2 linked regions of the Homo sapiens genome follow. The protein of the gene in region 2 purifies or fractionates together with the protein of the main gene of each other region. This does not show direct contact. Each region holds a gene or a part of one and is shown on either strand. Other genes may lie near its edges.

What was found. The genes of interacting proteins can lie anywhere in the genome.
Region 1: the proteins of APOBEC3C (region 2) and XPC purify together in Homo sapiens (co-immunoprecipitation; 3 studies listed by BioGRID and IntAct, with this or other methods). This does not show direct contact.

What each region holds. Positions count from the first base shown.
Region 1 is NC_000003.12:14,161,565-14,168,601, forward strand, and holds part of XPC (DNA repair protein complementing XP-C cells), read right to left. Parts: intron 6,817-7,037; coding exon 6,693-6,816; intron 5,690-6,692; coding exon 5,605-5,689; intron 4,022-5,604; coding exon 3,864-4,021; intron 3,370-3,863; coding exon 3,249-3,369; intron 1-3,248. UniProt on the Homo sapiens protein: Involved in global genome nucleotide excision repair (GG-NER) by acting as damage sensing and DNA-binding factor component of the XPC complex. Has only a low DNA repair activity by itself which is stimulated by RAD23B and RAD23A.
Region 2 is NC_000022.11:39,017,250-39,020,882, reverse strand, and holds the end of APOBEC3C (DNA dC->dU-editing enzyme APOBEC-3C), read right to left. Parts: intron 3,118-3,633; coding exon 2,838-3,117; intron 2,615-2,837; coding exon 2,496-2,614; 3' UTR 531-2,495; downstream 1-530.

The DNA of each region.
Region 1 (7,037 bases), on a different chromosome or scaffold from region 2:
CCAGAGGATCATTTCAACTGACAAAGAAAAACGCACCTGAGACAATCCAACAGGCTTTCATGATTAAAAAAAAAAAAAAAAAATTCAGAACACTAGGAATAGAAGGGAACTGAGTCAACGTGATAACCCAGATCTAGTATGATACTTAATGGTGAAAGATTGAGAGCTTTCCCTCTAATTATCAGGAACAAAACAAGGATGCCTGCTGTCACCACCATTATTCAACATTGTACTTGAAGTCCTAGCCAGAGCAATTAGGCAAGAAAAAGGCATGCAAACTGGACAGGAAGAAGTAAAATGATCTACTCATAGATGGCATGATCCTATACATAGAAAATTTCAAAGAATGCACAAGAAAGCTAGTAGAGCTAATAAATGAATTCAGCAAAGCTGCAGGGTACAAGACAACACAAAAAAATCAGTTGTGTTTCTATACATTTGCAATGAACAACCTAAAAGAGAAATTAAGAAAACAATGCTATTTCCAAGAGCATCAAGAAGAATAAAGTACCTAGGAAAAAATTTAACCAAGGTAAAAGGCTGTACACTGAAAATTACAAAATACAGCTGAGAAATTAAAGACAAAAATAAAAGGAGAGACATCCATGCTTATGGACTGGAAGACCTAATAACCAGATGGCAATGGCACCCAAATTAATCTACAGATCAGTGCAGTCCCTATCAAAATTCCACAGCTTTTTCACAGAAATGGAAAAACAGATCATCAAATTCATATGGAATTGCAAGAGGCCCCAGATAACCAAAGCACACTGTAAATGAACAGAGTTACACTGAGGCTTCCTGATTTCGCAACTTACTACAAAGCTATAGTAATCAAAACAGTGTTGTACTGGCGTAAGAACAGACATGTAGACCAACAGCATAGAATTGAGAGGCTGGAAATTAACCCATACATTTATGGCCAGTTGATTTTTGAAAAGGATGCCATGACCATCCAAGCCCCATTGAAAAAATTGTCTCTTCAACAAATAATGCTGGGACAAATGGATATCCACATGCATAAGAATGATATTGAACACCTACCTGATATATGCAAATATTAACTCACAACGTATGTAAGAGCAGTAACTATAAATCTCTTACAAGAAAACACAGGGGTCGATCTTTATGACCTTGGATTTGACAATGGAATCTTAGATACGACACCAAAAGCAAAAAGAACAAAAGAAAAATAGGTAACTTGGACTTTGTCAAAATTCAAAACTTTTGGGTATCAAAGGACTTCATCAAGAAAGTAAAAAGGCAACCTACAAAATGGGAGAAACCATGTGGAAAGCATGTATCTGATAGGTAACTAATATCCAGAATATACAAGGAGCTCTTACAAATCATCAACAAAAAGGCAACATAATTAAAAAATAGGCAAATACTTGAACAGACATGTCCTCAAAAAAGATACACAAATGACCAAGAAGCCCATGAAAAGACACTCATCATCATGTCATTGGAGAAATGCTATCAAAACCACAATGAGGTATCACTTGACACCCATCATAATGACTATAATCAAAACATCAGAAAATAACCAAGTGTTGGTAAAGATTTGGAATCCTCGTTCATTGCTGGTGGCAATGTAAAATGGTACAGTAACTGCAGAAAACAGTTTGGTGGTTTCTCCAAAAATTACATATAGAATATACATATGACCTAGCAATTTCAATCCTAGGTATATACCCAAAAGAACAGAAAACAGGGTATGTAAATAAATATATGTATAGACATTATTAACAACACTCTTCACAACAGCCACAAGGTGGAAACTAACTAAATGTCTGCCAATGGATAAATGGATAGAGAAAATGTATAAACATGTAATGGAATATTATTCAGCTATAAATATTAATGAAATACTGATACATGCTAAAATGCAGATGAATCTTGAAAACATTATACTAAGCAAAAGACAGGCAGAAAAGGCCACATAGTGTATAATTTCTTTTATACTAAATATCCTAAATAGGTAAATCCACAGAGACACAAGACAGATTGGTGGTTGCCACGAGCAGGGACAGGGGGGTAACAATGAGGAGTTTAATGCGTATATACAGGGTTTCCCTTGGGGGTGACAAAAACATTTTGGAAATAGAGGTGGTAGTTGCACAACATTGTAAATGTACTAAATGGTCACTGAATTGTACCCCCTCTTTAAAAGCTGTGTGATCCTATTTTGCTTAAACAAATAAACAAAACAAATACATACGTACACACATACACAGGAACAAAGTCTGGGAGGACAATACTAAAATATTAATGAGTTACCAGCCTGGCCAACAGGGTGAAGGGTGAAACCCCATCTCTACTAAAAATACAAAAATCAGCCAGGCATGGTGGTGGGCACCTGTAATCCCAGCTACTCGCGAGGCTGAGGCATGAGAATCACTTGAACCCAGGAGGTGGAGGTTGCAGTGAGCTGAGATTGCACCACTGCACTCCAGCCTAGGCGGCAGAGAGAGACTCTGTCTCAAAAAACAAAAACAAACAAACAAAAAAATTGGCAGCACATTATAACATAATTATCAGCCTTGCCAAATATCTTAGACTTGTTAAAGCCAACACGGAAGAAGAGAACTAAAGATGTCAACCATCTTTTTCTCCAGAGAATCTGGGACTCCCAGATTGAACTGTATGGATTAATAGGAATCTTCTAGGGATAAAACCACATTTCCATCTCTGTTTTTGTTTTATTCAGACAGAGCCTTACCTACAGGTGCCTGTAGGCATTTGATAAAGCCTGCCTGTCCCTGGAGCACTCTGCCATCACGATTCCTTTTTATGGACAGAACCCTCCTCACTGCACTGCTGCCTGCCAGTGTCAACACCCAAATGTGAGATACAAAAACACATTCTCAAGGACTTCAGCATCCAATTTGAAAAAACATTTCCTTGGGACTTCTGAAGACAAAATTGGAAAAATTAATGAAAATATTTCTAGCACATCTGACCAAAAACTACGGGCTTTTTGGTACACCACAACTAGAGGCGATAGGGAGGAAAGCATACAGGCCCTCCACTCAGACTCTGATCCCAATCTCGATTCTCAGGCTCACCAAGGAAAAGACCTTAGAGGCATCATGTAGCTATTCTGGGCTTCAGCAGCTATCAACGTCATTATGAGGACTGAATAAGGTAGTGTCGGTAACACACCTGGAATGGCATCTGGCACATGGCTGCCATTATCATTAGTTAACAGTACTGATAAAAAACAGTGATCCGGGAGGATCACTTACATGGACCAATTCCTCATCATCTCGAGCAGAGTAAATAGCAAATCTCCTTTCCAATGTAGTCTGCAGGTTATCTTGTTCACTGGCTGAAAGTTCTGCATTAACTGTAAATGTTCCAATGAACCTGGGGAGAAAGCAGGCATTCCTTGTGTCAGAGGTCAGGGCAAAGGGGAATTTTCATTTCCAGCCAAGAAAATAAAAAGAGGGAGTGAATCGTGAGACCCGCCTGCCTCTGTCCTACTTTCCCCAGCCCGTCTAGCTAACTCCTATCATCACTGCAGACCCAGCTCAGACTTTACCTCCTTGGGGAGCCTTCCCAGACCTCCCAGCTGAGAAAAGCGCCCCTGCTATGTGAGCCTGCAGTCCCCAGAACACCCCTTCCAGGGCACTCCTCATGCCATCCTGTAATTACCTGGTATGTATTTGTCTCCCCACCAGTCTGGCAGCTCTACCAGGGCAAGATCATACCTGGCATTTCTCTATCTTCAATGCCATGCCCACCACCTGATACATAGTTACCGCCTCAGGGAAGGTCTGTGGAAGTGACCTGAACCCAGCCTCTGAGAGAAACACAAATCCTACACTCCCCAGCTCTGCAGGACAAGCGGAGGGCCTTACCACTTCACCAGGTTTGAGAGGTAGTAGGTGTCCACATCTCGAGGCAGCACTCTGGTAAAGCGGGCTGGGATGATGGACAGGCCAATAGCATGCAGATCTGGCTGGCTGCAGATGTTATTTCGATAGAAGCCATTTGCTAGCAGGCAGAGAAGGTGAACCTGTGAAGAGGAAAGGAGGAAGGGGCAGCATGGAAGGAAGGCCGGACACCAGGAGGAATTTTTGCTGCCAAAGTCAAGACATGCTGTGGACAAGAAATATGTGTTGCCATTTCTACATATAAGAAAGTAAAAACACTAGCATTGGCCACTTCCCAAGCTTGTCTTTGACCCTCTCTTTTTCTCTCTGTATACTCATTCCTTCAAAGGAATCATCAAACCTCAAAGCTTCAAAATACAAATTGCTTTGTTTTCAAAATACAAACTGTTTTTGTTTTGGTCTTGTCTTTCAGAGATACATACTGAAAGATTTCTGGATGAAATGCTGCCATGTCTGGGGTTTGCTCCACGAGATCAGAAGAAAAGGCAAGTGGAGTGGAGCTGGAGAGACTGCTGGAAGCCTGTGGAAGCCGGCGGGATGCACCCCACTGGGCTCACTGGGCTGCTCTCGCCACCTCTCTGGGTGTTTGAGCCCAACCTTCTCTGTCACAGGCTCCACATCTTTGCCCTTCCTCTGACCCCAAAACCCACCCTTCATCCACCTACTGAAATGATTATATGACCTCTTCACCTCTTTTCACATACTGCTTTGTGTCATTTTCCCTTCAACATTGGCTTCCTCCCCCCCGACTAACAGCCTCCCTATTTTAATCAATAGTGCTGCCTCTCTCTCCTCACTCAGGCCTCAAACCTGAGAGTCATCTTCCCTTTCTTTCACCTCCAGCACCCAACAAGAGGTGAAAGGCACACAGCTGTCTCGTTTCGTGCCCCAGGCCTGGGTGAGGGAGGCGACCCCTCTCTAACCTCGTCACCATCCTTGCACCTCTAGATTTCTGCAGTAGCTGCACACAAAGCAACTCACCCATCCCATCACTATCCTCTCAGGCAGCCCACCATCCATCAAAGGGAAACCAAAGCCCACCCTCCCTTCACCCCCACCCCCCAACACCTACATACTCCACACACGCAGGTGAGCTGGGCACCTCGCCGTCCCCTCCACAACTTGGCTAGAGTCTTCAACTTTTTCTCCTAGACCTGGCTCTAATCCTTTCCCCTACATAAAGCCTTCCCCAGCTCCACAGAGCCACGCTGATCTCTTTCACTGTTCCAGGCATAGCCTTGAGTTTCTCTGTTTGGAAGTCCTTGTTCCATCTAGAGATCAGATACTCCTCAATTGTAGGAAATAAGCTTTATCCAAGTCTCTATCCCCACCATGCCAAGCACCTTGCTAGGTGTGTGCAAGTGTTCAATAACTGTCAGCTAAAGTCAAAAGCCAGTGCCTGCAGCTGGGATTAGAATTAATGACATTAAATGGCTGAAAGGAGAGATGGAAGGCAAGTGCTCTTTATTTAGCCTCTGCTGCATGCCAGGCATTGTGCTGCAAGTTACCTTACCTATAATACACAACCACCCTCCAAGACAGACACTATTACTACCCCCACCTCCCAGATGAGGATGCAAAGGCTCAGAGAGAGTAAGAAACTTGCCATGGCCACAGAGCAGCAAAGCCAGAAATAAAGCCTCGGTGAGCACAAGCTCTTTGCACCGACAAGGAAAAGTCCTTCCCCATCATTCCTTGCCCTTACCTTGTGTGTGTCCTCATGGACCCCTTTATTGAAACGTTTCATCGCCCTCCGAAGATATGTCTCAAACTCCAGTTTTATCTTTTCACTGCAACAAATAGTGAAAAATCTGGGAATGAAGGGGGGAACTGAAACCAGACTCCACTCCCCCAGGCAATTCCTTCTCCTCGGATGACAGTGAATCACTCTCCCTGTTTCCCTACACAAGGCTGTGCTACTCAAGTCCGTCTGCAAGCCAGCTATTTCCTGCAGGCTCTTTGGCTCCTTCTCACCAGCAAACCTCGGCCTGGGACATTCTGTACCCAGACAACCCTCCTCTCAACCAGCAGCAGATCACACCTCACCTACATGCCTCAAAGCTCACTTCTTCCAGGAAGTCTTCTCTGGCTGTCCAACTCTTCCGACTACTGACTCTCTCCTTAGCAACCATTACCTTTATTAATGTTAAATTAACACACCATCATTTATGTGACACTGTTCTAGTGTAAAATCTCTTTTTCAGTCTGTATCCCATTAATCTTCAAGACAACTTGACACTTCTTGAATGATTTGTATTATCTCCCTCTTCTGTGCCTAGTAATGTGCCCATCGCACATTGGAATTCCCAAGCCATCAGAGGCTGCAGAGGTACTCCGGGATGCTGGGAAGGATAGGGGCTCCCTACCACGGCGGGCACTGCCTCAAGTCCTGCAGCATGACATGGTGAGGAAAATGTGAATGCCAAGTCAATGAGAAGGATTAGGTCTCAGCTCTTCCATTACTGGCTGAGTGACTCTTGAAACGTTACTTAGCGTCTGAACGTTACTTAGCTCCTCATTCACAACACTGTTCTAAGGATTAGGTAAGATAACGGATGACCTGCTCAATCCTTGGCACACAGGAGTTCCCTCTCCTCATCCCTCACCAGCCCCAGCCAGGACACGAAGGTGTCTCATTCAAGTCTCTAAAGGTAAATCAGGTTCCTGACCCAAGGTTCTCGACCACTTTGATACTCAGTCCTGGTCCCCTACAAGTTTCTCCAAAGTCCTCCTAAGCAGCAGCTGTTGCCTACTGCATGTGACAGGAGCCTAGAAGCAAGGGCCTAAGCTTACCTTCTTTCTCTTGTCTTCGCCTGCTCTGGCGTTTCAATCTCTATCTCCACTGGCTTCACAGGCAGAAGAGATCGAGAGAAGGCTGTACTTTCTCTCACGTCACCCAGCACAGGCTCACTAAGTTCTATCAACAAGCATTTTTAAAAATCAGTAATAGTAATAACAATAATAATAGCTACTGTACTGAACAGAATCAAGGTTCTGCTGGGAAGGAGGAAGTGAGGCATGAATGTGAGGGAGACAGCCCACAGAGACCCCTAGACATGCCTTGCCCTGAGTCCTACCATGTGCCGGGCAGTGTGCTGAGTGTTATATATTCGTGTGTCTCATTTAACCCACACAACC
Region 2 (3,633 bases):
GGGAGGTGGGTCCACACCAGGCTGAGCCAGCAGAGCACAAGCCCCTCCCCTGGTGGTCCCGCCCAGCTGGAGCCGCCACTCCACCATCAAGACAGACAGGCTGATGCCTCTGCAGGGACTCCCGGATCCTGCCCTCGGGGATCATCCCAGAGACGGCCCCCACCCAGCGGCCATGGGGACAGGGAGGGAGAGTAAAGGGCCAGGCGTCTGCCTCCCCCCAGGCCTTCACCCTCGGTGGCCACCGTGGGAGGGAGGGACAGCAGGTGGGTGTGGGCCTCAGATGTCCCACCGGGATGCCATGCGCGCCCCCACACTGAGCTCTTTCCTTCCTGCTTCTCCTTCTTCCCCATCTCCTGCCCGAAGATCCTCCGTGTTGGGCTGAACTTTTGCCCTCTCTTGTCCCCATGTTATGGAAGGGCAGCGGCTGGTGTCCCAGGCCAGCCTGTCTGGAGCCTCCCTGCGCGTCTCACAGCTCCCTTCCCATGGTAGCGTGTTCCCATGGCGCGGTGACCTACAAATTACACAAGGGATGCATTTGCAAAGGACACTTTATTTCTTGTTAAGGGTGACAGCCTGCAAGGTAGCCATCCAGCAGCCTGGGAAGAGCAGCCTCTGGTTAACACCAGAGACAGACATTTAGGAGCAGGAGGGGTTTGGGCAGGAGCTTTATGCTGAAGAGGTTGGCTAAACATACATATTCAACAGGCTACAGGAGGAGCTATGAATATTCATGTAGGTGGTTGCAGTCCATGCTTATTGAACAAACATGTGTGGAACATATGATCCCAGCCGGGCATAGTGGCTGATGCCTGTAATCCCAGCACTTGGAGAGGCTGAGACAGGCGGATCACCTGAGGTCAGGAGTTCGAGACCAGTCTGGCCAACATGGTGAGACCCCATCTCTACTAAAACTACAAAATTAACCAGGTGTGGTGATGCATGCCTTTTACTCGGGAGGCTGAAGCAGAAGAATCGCTTAAACTCGGGAGGCGGAGGTTGCAGTGAGTCCAGATTGTGCCATTGCATTCCAGCCTGGACAAGAGGAGCAACACTCTGTCTCAAAAAAAAAAAAAAAAAAAAAAAAGATGATATTTGGAGGCAGAGAGATCCCAGAGGTGCGTGTGCATAGAGGAAAGGCCACAGAGGACACGGCTGGAAGAGACTCCCTGCCAGCCAGAAGGAGCGGCCTCAGAGGAAACAACCCCACCCACCCCTCGAAGTTGGACCTGCAGCTTCCAGATCTGTGAGAAAATAAATGCCTGCCATGTGGGCACCTGGCCTGGGACATCTTCTATGGAGGCCACAGCATGAAAGGGTCATTTTTATGGAGAATCTCATTCTCTAAAACTTACATCTGCTTTGAAAATGTCAAATCAAATTTAAAGTGTTTAGAAGAGCCTCTAAATTTCATATTTCATTTGCAAAGAAAGAATTGTAATTTGAGACATACACGGAGTCCGGATGGTGTTCACCATGTTGAGAGAGCAAAGAGATGGCAATTATAGAAGGAGAAATGTTCTCTTGCCCTATGTAAAGCCCATGGGCACTAGGAAGGGCTGGGAGCTGGGAGGTTCTATTGCTGAGTCGCTGCGTTTGGAGCAAGGAGTCCAAGACTTACAGCCATTTATCGCAGAAGCTATGGATAAAGCTGGTTTCAGGGTACAATGCACAGTCTCAGGAGTCAGGCTTGCAGAGAAGTCCATTTCGGAAACAATGTTGTGTGGCCTGACTGCTTTTCCTCCCTGGCTCCTGGCCTCTGTTTTAGCTGGGTAGGACATGAATGACCCAATTCATAGGATGAAATTTACAAAGGATGTTTCTCAAAACTTCGGGTTTTCAACTTACATATATTCACACCTGTTTAGGTTGAGTTTATTTATCGATTTATTTTCAGGCAGGGTCTCTATCTGTTGCCCAGACCCGAGTTCAGTGGCGCGATCTCTGTTCACTCCAGCCTCCACCTCTCGGGCTCAAGTAATCCTCCCACTTCAGCCTCCCAAGTAGCTTGGACTACAGATGCATGCCACCACATCTGGCTTTTTTTTTTTTTTTTTTTTTTTTTTTGTAGAGATGGGGCTTTGTCATGTGACCCAGCCTGGTCTGGAACTCCTGGGCTCACGCGATTCTCCCACCTTTGCCTCCCAAATTGCTGGGGGATTACAGGCGTGAGTCACCATGCCCAGCCTAGGATGAGTTTAGTAAGATTTGGTTATGCTGGGGAGATGGGAAAAGCCAGGTTAGGGGCACGCAGGCTGGAGGAACGGGGTCTGTGGGGGTGGATGGATAGCCATGGAGGCAGAAAGGAGCCTCTGCAGGAAGAGTCTGGAAGAGCGAGGAGGAAGCGGTGAGGCAGGGGAGCACTGTGGAATGGCCCTGAGGCCAGGAGGGGCTCAGGATGACCAGGCAGAAACAGAGCGGGTCCAGGGTGGAGGGGAGGCCCGTGCAGCATGAGCAGGAGGCTAGAGGAGACAGACCATGAGGCCCAGGGAGACCCCTCACTGGAGACTCTCCCGTAGCCTTCTTTTCAGAAGTCGAAAGTTGGTTTTTAATCCCTTCCAAGGCTTGAATGGCTCATTATCATTGTACACAAAGTTTTCCCAACAATATTTAAAATCTGAGAAAAAACAAGGAGAAAACAGTGAGGGCCCAGCAGGCCTCTCTCCTGGCCCTGGGCCCTCCCCTCCCAGCCCAGGTATCCAGGCTGCCAGTTGCAGTGGGCGCTGGCCCGGTCCCCACAGACACCCAGGGGACACTGACCCGCCCCACAGCATTGGAGAACCATCTGCCCCTCATGCTGTCCCTCCTGCACCCACTCTCCTCAGCCCCCCACGTCTCACCTTCATAGTCCATGATCTCCACAGCGACCCCTTCCTGACTCAGGCTGCGGAGCCCCTCCTGGTAACATGGATACTGGAAGTAGTAGAGGCGGGCGGTGAAGATGGTGAGATTCACGTTGCTGTGCCTGGCCAGGAACTCGGCCACCTCCCCTGCACAGTCTGGGCAAGGGCTCCAAGATGTGTACCAGGTGACCTGGTACTTTGTGTTAGGAGACAGTATGTCGTCGCAGAACCAAGAGAGGAAGCACCTTTCTGCATGACAATGGGTCTCAGAATCCACCTGGCGAAGGAGGAGGAGGAGGACAGGGGAGCTCAGACCAGGAGCAGGAGGAGTGCAGGGGTGGGGCGATGGGAGCAGAGGGCGGGCCTGGAGCCCCGGGCCGTTTCCTTATTTACTCATTTTTGAGACAGGGTCTCTCTCTGGTGCACAGGTTAGGGGGTGCAGTGGTGGGATCTGGGCTGACTGCAGCCTTGACCTCCCAGGCTCAAGGAATCTTCCCACCTCAGCCTCCTGATAAGCTGGGATGCAGGTGCATGCCGCCACACCTGCCTAATTTTTTAAATAATTTTTTTAGAGACGGGGTTTCACCATGTTGCCCAGGCTGATCTTGAACTCTTGGGCTCAAGCGATCCTCCTGCCTCACCCTCCCAAAGCTCTGGGACTATGAGCATAAACCACATGCACAGCCTTATTTTATTTCTTTACTTTTCATTTTTCTGGCTACATAGTAGGCCCCAGGGTGTTTTATTCATTGAGTTTCCCTTCTTCTATCCTTCTCCTTCTCTCTTTATTCTT